Linked DNA regions of Homo sapiens: regions 2 and 3 are each linked to region 1. Evidence: fine-mapped expression QTL. A gene starts in region 1. Each other region holds a variant in brackets. All regions are shown on one strand. Distances are from middle to middle.

Region 1 (5,410 bases):
CCAATGTAAGTTGGGTAGGGGTGGGGGCTCTGGGCAGGCTCACCATGGATTTCAGGGGGATTCTCAGGTGGGGAGAGCTGCCTCGTGGCCCCTTCTTAGTGGTGTACGTTCTGGAATTTGCACTTTGATTTTTCTACTTATGAATTGTGTATCCGTGGGCAACTTACTGAACTGTGTGCCTCAGTTTCATCACTTTGTAAAATGGGGATTAGAGTAGTGGAAACTGCCTCGAAGGTATTCCTGGGAGTTTTGAGCCCAGAATAAGCTAGTGTGTGAAGAGTTGAGAGCAGTACCTGGCATGGGGTGTGTGCATGGGTGACCTGGAGCCAACTCTGGAACCCCAGCTTTTTAATTCATTCTGCCTTGAATGAAGGGGCTGGCTGCACTTAGTACCTGCCTGTGGGGAGGTTACCAAGCAGCCCAGTGCTGAGGCCAGCAAGATACACTGAGGGACCCCAGAAGCACTGAGGTCAAGTCCCTGAGTCCCATGGGGCATCTCTGGGTTGGTCAGCACTGGGGTCACATTGCATGTTTGCTCAGCTTGCCCCTTCTCAGTGCCAGTAGAAGCCCATGGTGAGCCCAGATACAGGATCTGTTGACTCACGGGGAATTTGCTGCCCACAGAGGAGGGAGAAATGCACCTCCCCAAAGCCAACAATCAAAGGCCAGGCAAGCCCTGTGGGAGGAAAATAACTTGGGCTACAGATTTTCTTTTCTGGGCTTGGAGTCTTGCCATGGACAACACAGAAACAGACATGATTAGCATCATGGCTTCCGGAAACACTGTGAGTGCGCACTAGCAGGTGGTGGGCTGATGTCACTCTCAAATGGCTTTCTCGAGTCCGAGGGTCTGGCTCCCTGCCGGGCCCTGGCCCATTGCACATCAGCGCTAGGTATAAGCAGCTCAGAGAGTCACTTCAAGCTGCAGAAGACTTCTGGGGTGAGTCTTTGGAGGTTCTTGTGGAACCACAGGGGAGGTCCCCTGCTCATCCGCTACACTTCACACCTGGCCTGTGCACTCAAAGATGTCCACTGTCTTCCCCAGACTTGCTGGGAGAGAGAGCAGAACCTTGTCAGACTGGCCCACCCCAACTCCCCCCCATCCCCCTCACCTGTGCATTTCCCGTAGCATTTCCAGACGCCCAGGCTGTCCCGCACCTCCGTGACTTTGCTCAGATCCTTCCCTTGTCTAGAACTTGTTTGAAGAACTGAATGGAGATACTCAGGGCTCAGGGACACTGAGCCACAAAATAGGGGCCCATGGAAAGGTTGAAGGCATGGCTCCGCTGACACGGGAGCTCCAGAGCGAGAATGAATTCAGGGAGTTTAGGGCTGGAGTTGAAGAGGAACTAGAGCCTGGAGAGAGGGGAGGATAGAGAAAGGCTTTTTGAGAACCGCAGCAATGAGGGCTCTGCCTGAGGCTCTAGGTACTGACTCGTGGGCAGTGAGGAGAGGTAGATTTTTGTTGGGGATCCACTTGATGTATGTTTTCTTACAACTAAATGATAAAACTGAGGCTGAAACACAGGTGTTTTCTGCCTGGCCTTTTTCTAGAATGCACCTCTCTCTGAAGATTATAGAGAACTATGAAGAAAAGGAGATCGTGGGAAATATATGATTGAGTCAGTATGATTTGGAGGAAGCTCAAGTGCTTGCTGTGGTTGCAGAGAAGTGAGGGGACTTTACATTCCTGGCTGGACAGGTTGAACTCTGGGATTGGAGAGGTGGTGGGGGAGTGGAGAGGAGCAGAAGGAACAGACACAGGGAGAGACATTTCAAAGGATTGTCAACAGGGCATGATGATAACACAGGGAGAGCAAGTCCAGCCTGTCTCCTGGTGCTGCCCCGAGTTGATGACTGCAATTAAACTGCCAGACTTTACAGCCTGCTCTGCACTGTGTCCTCCTGGCATCTTGGGGACTTTTTCACGGTTGGGGCCACAGGGGAGGTTAGAAGCTGCTCGCTCTCTCCATTGCCAAGCACTGGCCGGTCAATGGAGTTGGGGAGAAGGAGGCTAATTCTCAACAGCCTGTTAGTGACAGCCATTCTCTCTCCAGCTTATCTAAAGAGGATTTTATTTCAGAAGAAGGCTGAGAGCTTGTTAGAAAGGCAAGTTCTTGGGCCCCACCCCACATATACTGAATCAGAGACCCTGGGAGTGGGACCCAGCAATCTGTCTTAATAGACCTTCTAGGAGATTCTGGCACTAAGGAAAGAGACCACAGGTCTTGTCTATCTCTGTAGTTGGCTGCGTCTGGGCCAGAGTAACTGCTTGTTGAAATGATCAGAGATCTCAAATGAGGTCATGCATGTTGGGGTGTGTGTGTGTGCATGTGTGTGTGTTGTGTATCTTTATGTGTGTATGTGTTTGGTCTAGGGTCCAGCACATAGTAGGTGTTCACTCTTGGGGGTGGGAATAATCACTCTAATGTCCGTGTTTGAGGACTGCATTGCTGGTGACCGCTGAGCCTGCAGAGGAGGAAGAGAGCAGGGCAGAAGATTCAGGAGGGGGTGCATGGCAACTTCTGATGTCACAGTGCCCCCCTTCACTCCTGACTTCTGGCTCATGGGTCACTTTGGGGCAGGGGCAAGAGGATGGTTAGCTGCAGCAAAGAGAGAGCCAAAGAGAAGTGGGATTGAGAGCACAGGGGACAGCTGGAGACAAAATATAAACGCCGGGCAGGGGAACAGCCAAGATAGTGCAGGAAGGATGGGGAATCACAGAAACTTCTCAGGTAACAGTCTGGGCCAGAACACTGGGTGTCCCCAGAGAGGGAAGTCGAGGGTGAAAGTGAAAAGGCTCACACTCAACTTCCAGGAGAAGGTCAGGTCCTTCATCAAAGAATAATCCTGCCATTAAAGGGTCCCCAGAGTCCCCAGCATTACTTCCCTTAAGTGGATCCCAATCCTGGTCACCCAATCCCCTCAGGACTTTGTAAAACGTACTGATGCCCAACCCTTGCCAACAAGCTCGTCCCATTCCTAGGATTCTGATTTACTTTGTCTGCAGAGGGCTTGAGCTCAGGTATGTCTATAATGACAGCCAGGTGATTCTATTGTACACTCAGGGCTGACCACTCTACTTAAGCAAAACACACACACACAAAATATACCCCCGTTCCCCCCCATCCCCTGGGGGTGATGGGTTGGGGATGAGGGTGATGATGTTCCCACAGATGCATTACCTCTCCACAGAGCTCAGGACCAAAGGAATGTTTAGCCAGAACTGGTAAATACCTTTAAAAAATTATTAAGCACCTATAGAAACCTATAGGGACAAAGGTGACTAAGAGGATTTTTACAAAACAATAATAATCAAGTCACTTATTTAAAAATAATTAATCATGCTTGTAATCCCACCACTTAAGGAGGCTGAGGCAGGAGGATTGTTTGAGGCCGAGAACTCAAGACCAGCCTAGGCAACATAGCAAGACCCCGTTTCTACAAAAATAAAAATAAAAATAAATTAGCTGGGCATTGGTGTGCACCTGTAGTCCCAGCTACTCTGGAGGCTGAGGCAGGAGGGCCCCTTGAGTCCAGGTGTGTGTCTGTATTGAGTGTGTGTCTGTGTGAGCCCAGGAGTTTGAGGCTGCAGTGAGCCATGATCGTGCCACTGCACTCCAGCCTGGGTGTCAGTGAGACTGTCTCTATAAAAGTAAAAATTAAAAAAAGTAATTTAGAACAAGGAATAAAAGACACCAGTGAATGAAACAAAAAATTAGTAAGAAACCTTGCGATCCATGAATGCACCTTGGTGTAGATAGGGGTGGGGAGAAGAGAACAGAAGAGACTCGTTTCTGCAGATGAGGCAGCCCTTCCCTTCTCCCCATCTGGGTGGAAGCTGGCCCAGCGCCCAGGCTCCCACCCCAGGCAGTGTTTCTGGAGGCCTGAGCCCGAAGCCCACTGTTTGTGCTGGAAGCTCTTGCTTTACACTTGTTTGAGCTACATTGAGTCAGTATGAGAGAGGCAGATAGGTGACGCAGGTTAAGAACATGGGCAGCCGAGTCCCTGGGTTCAAATCCAGACTCTGTCACTTGTCAGTTCACCCACTGGCCTGGGTCAGGGAGCTGACCTGGGTCCCAGGTCGCAGGCTTCCTCCAGGCTTCCTGGTAGGCTCTGCCCTCCCTCCCCCTCCCTTTCCCTCCCTCTCCCTCCCTTTCTCTCCCTCCTTCAGGGATGTCTTCTAAGTGCTTACCACTTGTGCAGGGCACAAAGAGGGTTTCCCCACCAGCTGTAGAATGCTCAGGCCCTGTAACAACTGGATCTGCCCCCAGGTGCAGCAACTCTAGGATCCTCTGTTGCCCTCCTGCTGCTACCACCCTCAGGGGTCTGGAGTCCTCACGATGCGCGCTGCATGTCCTCCCCACGGTGGATGGCCAGGCTCCCTCCCCCTCTTCCCTGACCACAGCAAGAGCCCCTTGGCTGCCATATTGGAAGGCGTTAGCATGCGTGTCTGTGCATGTGTAGGCATATGTGTCTCCGTGTTTGTGATATGACTGTGTGTTTGTGTGTTTTGTGTGTTGTGTGTATCTTTGTGCGTGTGTGTCTGTGTTGTATGAATGTCTTGGTGTGTATCTCTGTGCTGGTGTATGTGTGTCTGTGTGTTGGTGTGTGTGTTTGTACCTAAGTGTCTTTGTTGTGTGTGTTTGTGTTGGTGTGTCTGGTATTGGTGTGGGTCTGTGTTGTGTGTGTCTGTGTTTGTATGTCTGGTGTTGATGTGTATCTCCGTTATGTGTGTCTGTGTGTTGGTGTGTCTGGTACTGGTGTATGTCTGTGTTGGTGTGTGTTGTGTGTGTGTGTTGGTGTGTGTGTTATGTGTGTCTGTGTTGGTGTGTCTGGTGTTGGTATGTGTCTGTGTTGTGCATGTCTGTGTTGTGTGTGTCTGTGTGTTGGTGTGTCTGGTGTTGGTGTGTGTTTGTGTTGGTGTGTGTGTTGTGTGTGTTGGTGTGTGTCTGTTGTGTGTGTCTGTGTGTTGGTGTGTGTCTGTTGGTGTGTCTGTGTTGGTATGTGTGTTGTGTGTCTGTGTGTTGGTGTGTGTGTGTTGGTGTGTCTGTGTTTGTATCTGTGTGTTGGTGTGTCTGTGTGTTGGTGTGTGTCTGTGTTGTGTGTGTCTGTATTGGTGTGTGTCTGTGTTGGTGTGTGTCTGTGTTATGTGTGTCTGTGTGTTGGTGTGTGTCTGTGTTGTGTGTGTCTGTATTGCGTGTGTCTGTGTGTTGGTGTGTCTGTTGGTGTGTGTGTCTGTGTGTTGGTGTGTGTGTGTGTTGCACCCACTTGCACTTTCTTGAACCCTGCTTGATGTCTGTGCCTCTGTTCCCGTATCCCTGCTGGTTCCTTTCTGTGCTGGCTGTCAGCAGAGCTGCGAGTGTGGATGCCAGGCTGGAGTGAGTGAAAGAGCAACCGCTGGTATGGG
Region 2 (5,410 bases), 100 kb before region 1:
TTTATTCAGTTTATTTAGGTCAGCCCTAAGGTGAAACTATATTACATTCAAAATTATCCTTTAAAATCCCCTGAACTCATCCATAAAGTACATGGAAGGTTATGTATGTACAATTCTGGAAAATAATGACTGTGTTCACTAGAGTTTGAGAATCACTCAGTTAAATTAAGAGGGAACAAAAGAAAAGCCTATATTTAGATGGCTGGGCATTCAAACCATTCCGCCTTTAAGGAGACTCTCAGTAGAGGAGAGGTGGAGAATTCTATGGGGTTCTGTTTCCCTGTGGGGTTTACTCTATTATTCTTCATGCTACAAGCATCGGCAGCCTGGCTAAACAGAAATGTATTTCTGTTGGTGCTGGCTGTGAGGATTTGACTGAACAGGGGAGCTGCACCTTCTCTGGGATTACATTCTAATGTCACCTCTGCTCCTCTCCCTTATAATGAATTACAGGTAGACAGAGCTATAGCACTGTAACAAAGGTGAAGATACACATAGGCAATAGAGACGGGAACGTTTCAGAGAAGAGTAGGCAATGGTAGCCAGCCTGAATTTTGAGCTGAGTAACAGAAGAACTTCACTTCTGCTGTGACCACCCTGGTCCAAGCTATCATCAAGTCATGCCAGGAGCTGCCCCAAGTCTCTCTCCTGGGATTCTATGGTCTATTTTACCCAGGCAGCTGAGGGGTTCTTTTAACCTAAATCTGATCACACCAGCCCCATTTGTACAACTTATTTCTGGCTTCTCCCACTGCACATGGAGTTCCAGCCCTTCTGTCTTCATCTTGTGCCACCCTGCCCCTTGTTCATTATGTTCTCACCACACTGGCCTTTCTATTTATAGTGTCAGGTAGAAGCCCACTCTGGCCACCGTACGTTCCCCCAGATCTCTGCATCACTCTCCTTCAGTTCTCAACTCCAATCCACTCCCTCCCAGTGCCTTCCCGCTCTGGAGTGCTCTCTCCCAATTGTTCTGTATTATCATTCTGTCTCTTTCCTTGGCACCATTGATGCCCACCTAGAATGATCTTTTAGAGCTCAACTGTTCACTGGCTAAAGTTCTACCTTCCCCACCGGACGGGAATGAAGGCAGGGATCAGGTCATGCTGGTCATATTCCAGCATTTAGCACAGAGTGTAACATCCAGAGATGCTGAGGACACAATTCTGAAAAAAGTAGTAACAATGATGACAGCAGTATCATTTACTGACGGCTTTATAAGAACAGTCGTTTTCTCACATAACTCTATGAGGTGGAAGGCACGAACCTCATTTTATAGGCGAGGAAACAGAGCCTCAGAGAAGTTTAGTAATATGGTCAGGGTTGCATGGTGAAGCAGGCGGAGGAGCTAGGCTTTGATTCCAGGCAATCGGACCCCAAAATCTTATGTTCTACAACATTCTATTCCCCAAGGAAAAACCAAGTGCTCTGAAAATCTAGTCTAAAACAGACTATAATTTTCAATACACAAATTTACCCATTGCAAGTGTACAGTTAGTTCTGAGTTAAAAAAAAAAAAAAAGGTAAACATAGTGTAACCACCACCACAATCAAGATATGGAACATATAAATTTATCTTTTCAAAAAGTTTCTTATGCCCCTCTGTAGCCAATTCCCTCCTGTCCCCCGCACCCCTCCCCCCACCGCCGTTTCCCAGTAACCACTGATCTTACTTCTGTGCCTAGTTTTGGCTTTCCAAAATGTCATATAAATGGAATCATACGACATGCTGTCTTTTGTCTCTGTCTTCTTTCACTTAACATAGTGCTTTTGAAACACACCCGTGTCACTGCACGTACCAGTGGTTTGTTCCTTTTAATTTCTGAGTAGTATTTCAGCCGTAATTTGTTTATCTATTCATCAGCTGAGGGATGTTTAGGTTGTCTTTAGTGATATTTAAGCTAATATTCATGTACAGATCTTTGTATGGACATGTGTCCATACATACACAGGAATGGGATTGTATGGTAAATTTTGTTTAAATTTATTGAAATCTGCCAAACTGTTCTTGGAATTGATTGTACCATTCTGCATTCACACTAGCAATAAACGAGAGCTTCAGGTATTCTACACCCTTGTCAGCACTGTATTGTTGTTTTTAATAAATGTTAATTATGCTAATAGGCGTGTAGTGGTATCTCATTGTGTTTTTAATTTGCATTTCCCCTATGATTACTGACGTTGAAAATCTTTTGCTTATTTAACGTCTGTATTTCTTCTTTGGAGTAGGGCCTATTTAAATCTTTTACGCACTTTTTTTTTTTTTTGACAGGGTCTTGCTGTGTCACCCAGACTTGAGTGCAGTGGCATGATCTTAGCTGACTGCAACATCTGCTTCCTGGGCTCAAGTGATCCTCCCTCCTCAGCCTCCCAAGTAGTTGGGACTACAGGCACATGCTGCCATACCTAATTTTTTAAAAAAATTTTGTAAAGATGAGGTCTCACTATATTGCCCAGACTGGTCTCAAACTCCTGGGCTCAAGCAGTCCTCCTGCTTTGGCCTCCTAAAGGGCTAGGATTACAGGCGTGAGCCACTGTGCCCGGCCCCTTTTGTCTATTTTTAAGGTTGTTTTCTTAATGAGTTTAAGACTTCTTTCTATATTCTGTACATGAGTTCTTCATCATGTCTGTATTTTACAAATGTTATCTCCTACTCTGTGGCTTGTATTTTCATTTTAAGTGTCTTCTGAAGAGCAGAAGTTTTTAATTTTGATGAAGTACAGTTTATCTACTTTTCTTGCATGGTTTGTGGCTTTTGTGTTTTATCGAAGAGTCCTCTGCCGAGCCCAGTTTCACTGGGGAGCAGCCCATGTTGTCATGCTGGAAGTGGAATTCCACAGCTGATTTTGGAATACTGACCTTGTATTCTATACCCTTGCTAGATTTACTTATTACTCCTAGTAGCTTTTCTGTAGATTCCTTTGAATTTTCCACATAAACAATCACATTGTGAAAAGAATTTCATTTCTTTCCAGTGTATGTGCCTTTTCTTTCTCTCTCTTGCCTTATTATATACTAGTCAGGAGCTCCAGAACAACACTGACCAAGGTCCAGTTCCTATAGAACAGCCTTCACAGTGTAGTCTGGTCTGTACATTTTCCTTAACCTCTTCCCAGTTTTACTTCCTCACAATTCTCCTATATACATCCTTCCCTCTACAGCTGGCCAGGTTGCCTGTTTTTATCCTTACACATATATTTTGCACTCCCATCTTTGCATTTTTGCTCACCATGTTCA[T/C]CTTGCCTGACATGGTCTTTGCTTCATTCTCTACCTATCCAAAGTCTGTCTGTCTGTCAAGGTCTACAGCGTGTCTCTCTATCTTGATGTTCATTTTGTCTCTTCGCTCATTCTCCACTCCTGTCCGAATGGCCTTCTCATCGCCTTGACAGCAGATGCCATGTATTCCTTCTTTGGTATCTTTACTTCTGTATTTCTCCCACCTAGGAGGTCATTTCTTTCTCTTATCATCCATCCACCTGTCCATCCATCCATTATTAAGCATTAGCTACCTGCCAGGTATAATGGCTAGCATGCAAGCTCCACGATAGCAAGAATTTTTCTGTTTTGTTCACCTCTGTAATATAGTATTGAAAATGGTGCCTAAAACTGTTCGTGTGACAAGAGCATTAATACCCAGAATGTACAAGGAATTCAAACAACTCAATAGTAAAAACAAACAAACAAACAAATAATGCCATTGAAATGTGGGCAAATGACATCACATTTTTTGAAAGAAGACATACATGGTGGCTCATGCCTGTAATCCCAGCACTTTGGGAGGCCAAGACAGAAAGATCACTTGAGGCCAGGAGTTTGAGACCAGCCTGGGCAACATAGTGAGACACTGTGTCTACAAAAAATTTAAAAACAAAATTAGCTGGGTGTGTTGGCTCGCACTTGTAATCCCAGCACTTTAGGAGGCCGAGGCAGGAGAAACGCTTGAGCCCAGGAGTTCGAAACCGGCCACACAAAGTAAAAAAAAATTACCTAGGCCCAGCGACTGGCACCTGTAATTCCAGCTACTTGGGAGGCTGAGGTGGGAGGATCACGAGTTCTGGAGGTTAAGGGTGCAGTGAGCCATAGTCCTGCCACTGCATTCCAGCCTAAGTAACAGAGCAAGACCTGTCTCAAAAAAAAAAAAAAAAAAAAAAAAAGAAAAAGAAAAAGAAAAAAAGAAGACATACGAATAGCCAAAAGGTATATGAAAAAATGCTCAACATCACTAATCATCAGAGGAATGCAAATTAAAACCATACTGAGATATCATTTTACCCCAGTCAGAAGAGCTATTGTTATCATAAAAAATGAAGATGTTGATGAGGATGCAGAGGAAAGGGAACTCTTACACACTGTTGACGGGGCATGTAAATTAGTATAGCCTCTATGGAAAATAGTATGGCGATCTCCCAAAGAACTAAAAATAGAACTACCATTTGATCCAGCAATCCCACTACTGAGTATCTACACAAAAGGAAAGAAATCAACATTAATCAAAAAGATACCTGTACTCATGTTTATTATAGTACTTTTCATCACAGCAAAGATATGTGTTTTGTCTTAAATATGTTTGGTGAAACAGTGATCACTTACGGAAGACCTATCTGCCAGTTGAGTGGAAGACAGATGGAAGGAGGGTTAGGAAGAAGGCAGAGAAGTCAGCTGGGATGTGCTGTAATAACCCACGCAAAACCGATGATGGGCTGAAGCTAAAGCACTGAGGTGAGAGGGCACAGATTCCAGGGTAAATCAGGGGGTTGAAAAGACACAATCTGTTGAGTAATCAGATGAAGGAGATAACAGAAAAAGAGTGCCTAGGATGGCTTATAGGTGCCTGACTTTGGAACATAAATTAAGGTATTAAGGAAAAAGATTTGGGAAAGAAAGTGAATTGGGGTGAATACACACAAAATGTGAGCTGCCTGCAGGGGCAGCCCAATAGATTTTCAGAGGAACTAGGCTCAGAAAAGCAATCTGGGTTGGAGGTACAGACAGTGTGGAGTGTAGCAAATGCAGGGAAGTGAGATGAGGAGGAGATTAAGGACCACCAAACTAGAGTAGGTGGAGGAGGAAGGAACAGAAACAAGAGCTCAGCAGGGAACAGGCAGAATGGCTTATTTCTTACTCAACCTCTGGTTCTCAGCTTCAAGACGCATTCCCTGAGAAGTAATCCTTGGTCTCCTCAGTTTGAGGTAGATACTTCTCTTTGTGCTCCCACGTCACACTGGGCCTGTCCTTGTAGTATTTAGCACATTACACACATATGAGGTGCTTCATGACTCAGAACCCCACAAGACACAGAAGTGTGCCTTAGTCACCACTGCACCTCCAGGGTCGAGCACCATGCCTGGCTGGCATGTGCACTAAAAAACCACATTTGTTGAGTGAAATGTACCTTTGACAACACTTAGTG
Region 3 (5,000 bases), 75 kb before region 1:
TACTTCACTTGTGGGGTGTTCTAGCTCACAAGCTTTTACAATCTAGCCTAAGATGTCATAGCATTGCTTCTGCTGCCCACTCACATTCAAGGAAATGGGAATTAGGCTCTACTCTTGATAAGGAATAAGAAGGTGCTAGAAGACTTTGTGGAAGAGGAGATATTGTTGCTGCTGTCTTTGGAAAATATAGTTTGTCACTTGACCCAATTTGTGAGTCTTACTCTTTTTTATATCTCATATTGTTTTTTCTTATTCTATCTTATATCTGATATGAATAAATATTGTGTGAATTTTCACACAATATTTATTGATATCAGATATATTTTGGCCTTAATTATGTTTTTCCTCCTAATTTGTAGTATTTTCTTAGTCCTATTTTGTGATATAGATTCTTTTTTTCTTTGTGTGTGCTCATACATTCATACTTTCCTTCTTTGGATTTGGAAGCTTATTGGAAGCTTATTGTCTTTTTTCAGTTCTTCTGGTAGTTACCTTTAATTACTTTATATGTTATATCATTACCCTCTTTCATGAATTAGGAAATGTATTCAGTATTTATGGAGTTCCTGCTCTGGAAAATGGGAAACTTTACGCTAATATGGTTTCTTTAACTTCTCCCTCCTCCTACCTCTAGAGTTTTGCTTATTATAGTCTTATTTTAGTCCTTCTAGTGGTTTTCTTTGTAACATTAATTAATGTACTTAAACCTGTTTATTGACTTAATAGACTCTGTTTAGAAAGGGAAGAAAATAAACACTCATATTCCTTCCTATGAGTTTCCTCCTTTCTCTCTTGTTTGTTCCAATGTTATTTTTGTGTTACCAAGTTTTATAATAGTTATCTTTTGAAAACATATTTCTTACTGGTTGTTCAGTCTTTGATCTGTTTTTTAAAAAAGTCAATTCATTGCCTATCACCAGTCTTATTGCAGCTTCTCCTTTTACTTATTGGTTGGCTACATTTTCTTTTGACTCATGTTTAAACATATGAGCCTATTGACTATTCTTAAATGATGACCTGGCTGGATTAATATTCTTGGGTCACAGTTTGTTTCTTTTTGGAGGATGCTATTCCATCATTTTCTTTCACTGAATATCTTGGAGAAGTCTGAGGCCAGGCTTACTTAACCTTTGTAATCTCTCCTCATAAGGTGTTTTTTTTTTTAGTTCATGTAACCCAGATGTATTTGTATTTATCTTTCCATATCAAGTTTTCTGGAGTCTGTGCCTTTCTGACAGGCAGACTAAAGTTTTGCTTGGAATCAGGAAAATTTTTTCTGTTAAATCTTTGCATTTATTTATGTTCTATGGTTTGACCTTTTATTTTGAAGTACCAGTTACGTTTATGTTGGATCATTTTTATTTGTTTTCATCTACTATTTTCTTGTTGCTTTAATTATTCATCTTTTCCTTATTTATTCAGCAATTTTAAGAGTTCACTCTTATGTCAGAGCTGTCTGGGGACACAGGGGGACAAGTTAGGGGACAGTAAACAAGTTGACTGCTCCAGTAGAGCTTATGTTCTAGTGGAAGGTAGATAAACAGTAAAAAATACAGTAGGGGATGTTAGTTAATGATACAAAGTAATGGGGTAGAGAGTGCAGAGGAGAGAACAGTAACTATTTTAAGTGCTCAGCTAAGGCTTCTCTCTGTATTTCCTTAGCTTTGTCAGCTCCATTTTCATCTCCTGTTATCTCACCCTCATGCTTTTTGAGTTCTTTTCTTTAGGTTTTTCTGTAGGGTGAAATAGTCCCAGGAATGCTTTTATTTTGGTGGGTTTTTTTTCTTTTCGAGTAGATTCTTCACCTATCTTCTGTATACTATGCTTCTTTTTTCTTTTTTCGCTATAGTTTTGCATAAATGCACTTCCCTTTTTCCTTATCCATTTTGCTTATCCTTACAGTGACAGTCCTGTCCAGCCCTTCTCTTTCTGCTGGTTTAGTGCGGGTGAATCCCCCTTGACCACCTTCTCCTGATGTCTGAGGCACGTGGCTGCTGCTCTGAGCTGGAGTTGCAGTGCTGGGTTTGGTAGCCTGAAGGCACAGGTGTGATGTGCGATGTGGAGAACTTACCAGGCTCTTGCTGTCTTGGCTGGGCTGCCTGGTTTTGCGTTCTCTTCCTTAGTGGGGCTCTTGTCTGCTGGTTGGCTGTGCACTCTCTTCTGGTTCTTCCCTTCTGCTTTGGATTGTTTGTAAGACCTTAGAGCTTTAGCATCCATCCAAGAGAGTGAGCCCAGTCTTTTTCTAGCAGTGTTTCTACTTCCTTAAAACAAAACAGGGAGAGGTTATGTGAAAGCCAGTTTGATCCTGTGTTAACCTACTTATGCCTAGTGTTCCATTATTGGAACGCTAAGCATGTAGGAGTTATTTATATCCTACTGCTCAAGGTAATCACCAAGGTCTGATTTTTCACTCATGCAAAAATTCACAAAATTGCAGCCTACAGCATAAATGGGTTAAGACCTTGGCATGGTGGCTCA[T/A]GCCTGTAATCCCAGCACTTTGGGAGGGCCAAGGCGGGCGGATCACGAGGTCAGGAGATCGAGACCATCCTGGCTAACACGGTGAAACCCTGTCTCTACTAAAAATAAAAAAATTAGCCGGGTGTGGTGGCAGGCACCTGTAGTCCCAGTTACTCGGGAGGCTGAGGCAGGAGAATGGAGTGAACCCAGGAGGCGGAGTTTGCAGTGAGCTGAGATCGTGCCACCGCACTCCAGCCTGAGTGACAGAGCGAGACTCCGTCTCAAAAAATAAATAAATAAAAATAAATAAATAAAAATAATAAAAATAAATGGGTTAAGACCACAGGACGGGAATGGGCTTCACCCAGTCTCTCCATGAGTCTCCCACCTCCTCACTTCTCTTAAGATGATCATCTCTCATGATTATTGATCCTTCTGCGCTTCGTCTCCTGCCTTCTTCCCACCCGGTGGCACCACTATGGCCAGCTGCAGGGATTTTCCTGCCTGTTTGGGTCATTGTTAGTTGGGAGGAGTTTCTGCTGTCATGGCTATTTCTGCATTTTTTTCTCGGGTCTTTTGCTTTTCTATAAGTTCCTGGGGATGGTAATTATTAGTGAAATTTTCCTTAGAGCTTCTTTGCAGAGTTTGGAGCTATGTAGAGCTGCTCCAACCTGGCTCTTTCTTTGGCCACCAGCCCTTTTTTGTGTTTGTTGGTATTAGTTTATTTGTGTTTTTAAAAACGCTGTTTGCTGTTTGTACCTTAAGGGCAGGGAGATCTTCATGTCTGACTTCACTGCACCATCTTAAACCAGAAGTTTAACTTACAGATTTTAACATTTGTTGCCATTGAGTAAATCGATGCCTTAGCAGGACCCGTGATTGGTCTTTGAATTCAGGTGTACCCTGGCATGTTGATATATACAATACCCAGCAGTGCCCCATTTGAGAAGCATGGGAAATTAAAAGGAAATTTATTCAAATAAATACACAGTTTTATATTTATTTAGGAAACTAGCACCCTCTTATTACACTAACACGTTTAATTCCATGAAACATAAGTTTAGAACAGAAAGTACCACCTCCTCTTCTTTTACTAGGAATGTGAACCTGTTCATTAATCAAACATTTAAATCTATTAATTAAACATTAAAATCAGCTATACATCTTGTTAAGGGTAAGGAGAATAAATCTAGATTGGAAAACGACATTTCATTGAGCTGCTTTGCTTGTCACAGATATAAAAGAGTAGAATGGTCGATGAGCTGTTTATTCCAGAACAAGGGTTGGCAAACTATGGCCTGCAGACCAAATCCAGCCCGACACCTGTTTTTGTAAGTTTTTATTGAAAAACAGCCTTGCCCACTTATATATTGTCTATGGCTGCCTTTGGATTAGAACAGCAGAGTTGAGTAATTGCAACAGAGACCGTATGGTCTGAAATATTTATGATTTGACCCTTTACAGGAGAACTTTGCTGATCACTGTATTAGAGTCTTTAACCTTGGGAATCCCTCACATTGTCTCAATTTTTCTAATTAAGATTAATTAGAAATTTTTAAAGAATGGGTTTTGAGTTTCTTTTTCTCACTTCTCATTGATCCTAGTGGGATCACCATAGGTGAGAAAATGAAACTCAAAGGAACAAACAGCTCTGCAAAAGTACAGTTCCCCTTGGAGCTGTCTCTCTCCTCGGGGAAGGCAGGCATCGGTTGATTTATGCCTTAGGGCATTGCATCCCCTCTACCAGAAGCCAGTTGTCACGTAGAGCAGAGATTCACCCCTACCTGCTCTCAGTTTATTGAACTTGATCTACCTCTTGACTGTTCTTTTGTAATTCCTATAGGAATAATTAACATTTGAACCTTTCCTGAGTCTCATTTACTTTTCCTAACTTTACTCACAGACCAATGGGAAACAGAGAGCAAGAAGGCTCCCCCTGCACTGCATCCCCAGCAGCTAGCATGGTGCCTGGCACATAGAGCAGTTGTGTCCAGTAAATATTTGCTGGGTGAATGACTCGTGCCTTGTGCAGAGCGTCTATCAGATGGGTCTGTTCTGGCAACTGTCTCTGGAAAATCTCAACTGGCACAATCATGGCTTTGCAGAGCTTCCTCTTCCTTCTCTTTCTCATGACAGTCTGCCTTGTCTCATTTATGGCACAGAGAAAGGTCAATTTCAGGCCAGTAACCGTTGATTATTTTTTTCCCTTGTCCCAGGCGGTGGTTATTATGGGTGTGGTGCTACAAGGTGCCAACCTGTATGGTTACATCAGGTGTAAGGTGCGCAGCAGAAAGCATTTAACCAGCATGGCTACTTCATATTTTGGAAAGCAGTTTTTAAGACAAGTAAGTGTTTTCTGGATGTGATCAGTGACTAATGCAATTATTTCTAACTTTCATAGTTTAATTTTTATGAAACGCTCCTGAACAGAAGTTTTAAAGGCATATAGTTGTATAAATATAATGATAAAGATGTTGTAATTGCTCTTTGGGGGTGTTCAAGACAGTCTGGAAGTGTATTGTCAGTATCCTAAAATTATTTTA

The links. PIP is the estimated chance that this variant, and not a neighbour inherited with it, causes the effect.
Region 2: its variant is the best candidate, but not a certain one, in a credible set for the expression of CDRT4 in whole blood (TOPMed, PIP 0.75).
Region 3: its variant is the best candidate, but not a certain one, in a credible set for the expression of CDRT4 in sun-exposed skin (GTEx, PIP 0.71).

The regions. Positions count from the first base shown.
Region 1 is chr17:15,464,785-15,470,194 of GRCh38, reverse strand. It overlaps CDRT4 (CMT1A duplicated region transcript 4), which reads left to right and starts at 2,574. Exons shown (of 4, transcript NM_001204477.2): 1 at 2,574-2,735. The region is part of intron 4 of TVP23C-CDRT4 (TVP23C-CDRT4 readthrough); the gene reads left to right.
Region 2 is chr17:15,568,200-15,573,609 of GRCh38, reverse strand. It overlaps a transcript of FBXW10B not described here. Among named protein-coding and RNA genes, the nearest start is that of TVP23C-CDRT4, 7.4 kb to the right of the region's middle. The variant T/C (reference allele first, on the strand shown) is at 3,238.
Region 3 is chr17:15,540,235-15,545,234 of GRCh38, reverse strand. All of the region lies in intron 4 of TVP23C-CDRT4 (TVP23C-CDRT4 readthrough), which reads left to right. TVP23C (trans-golgi network vesicle protein 23 homolog C) reads left to right here. Exons shown (of 6, transcript NM_001135036.2): 6 at 4,674-5,000. The coding sequence ends at 4,823. Among named protein-coding and RNA genes, the nearest start is that of TVP23C, 21 kb to the left of the region's middle. RefSeq lists an enhancer at 4,005-4,630. The variant T/A (reference allele first, on the strand shown) is at 2,479.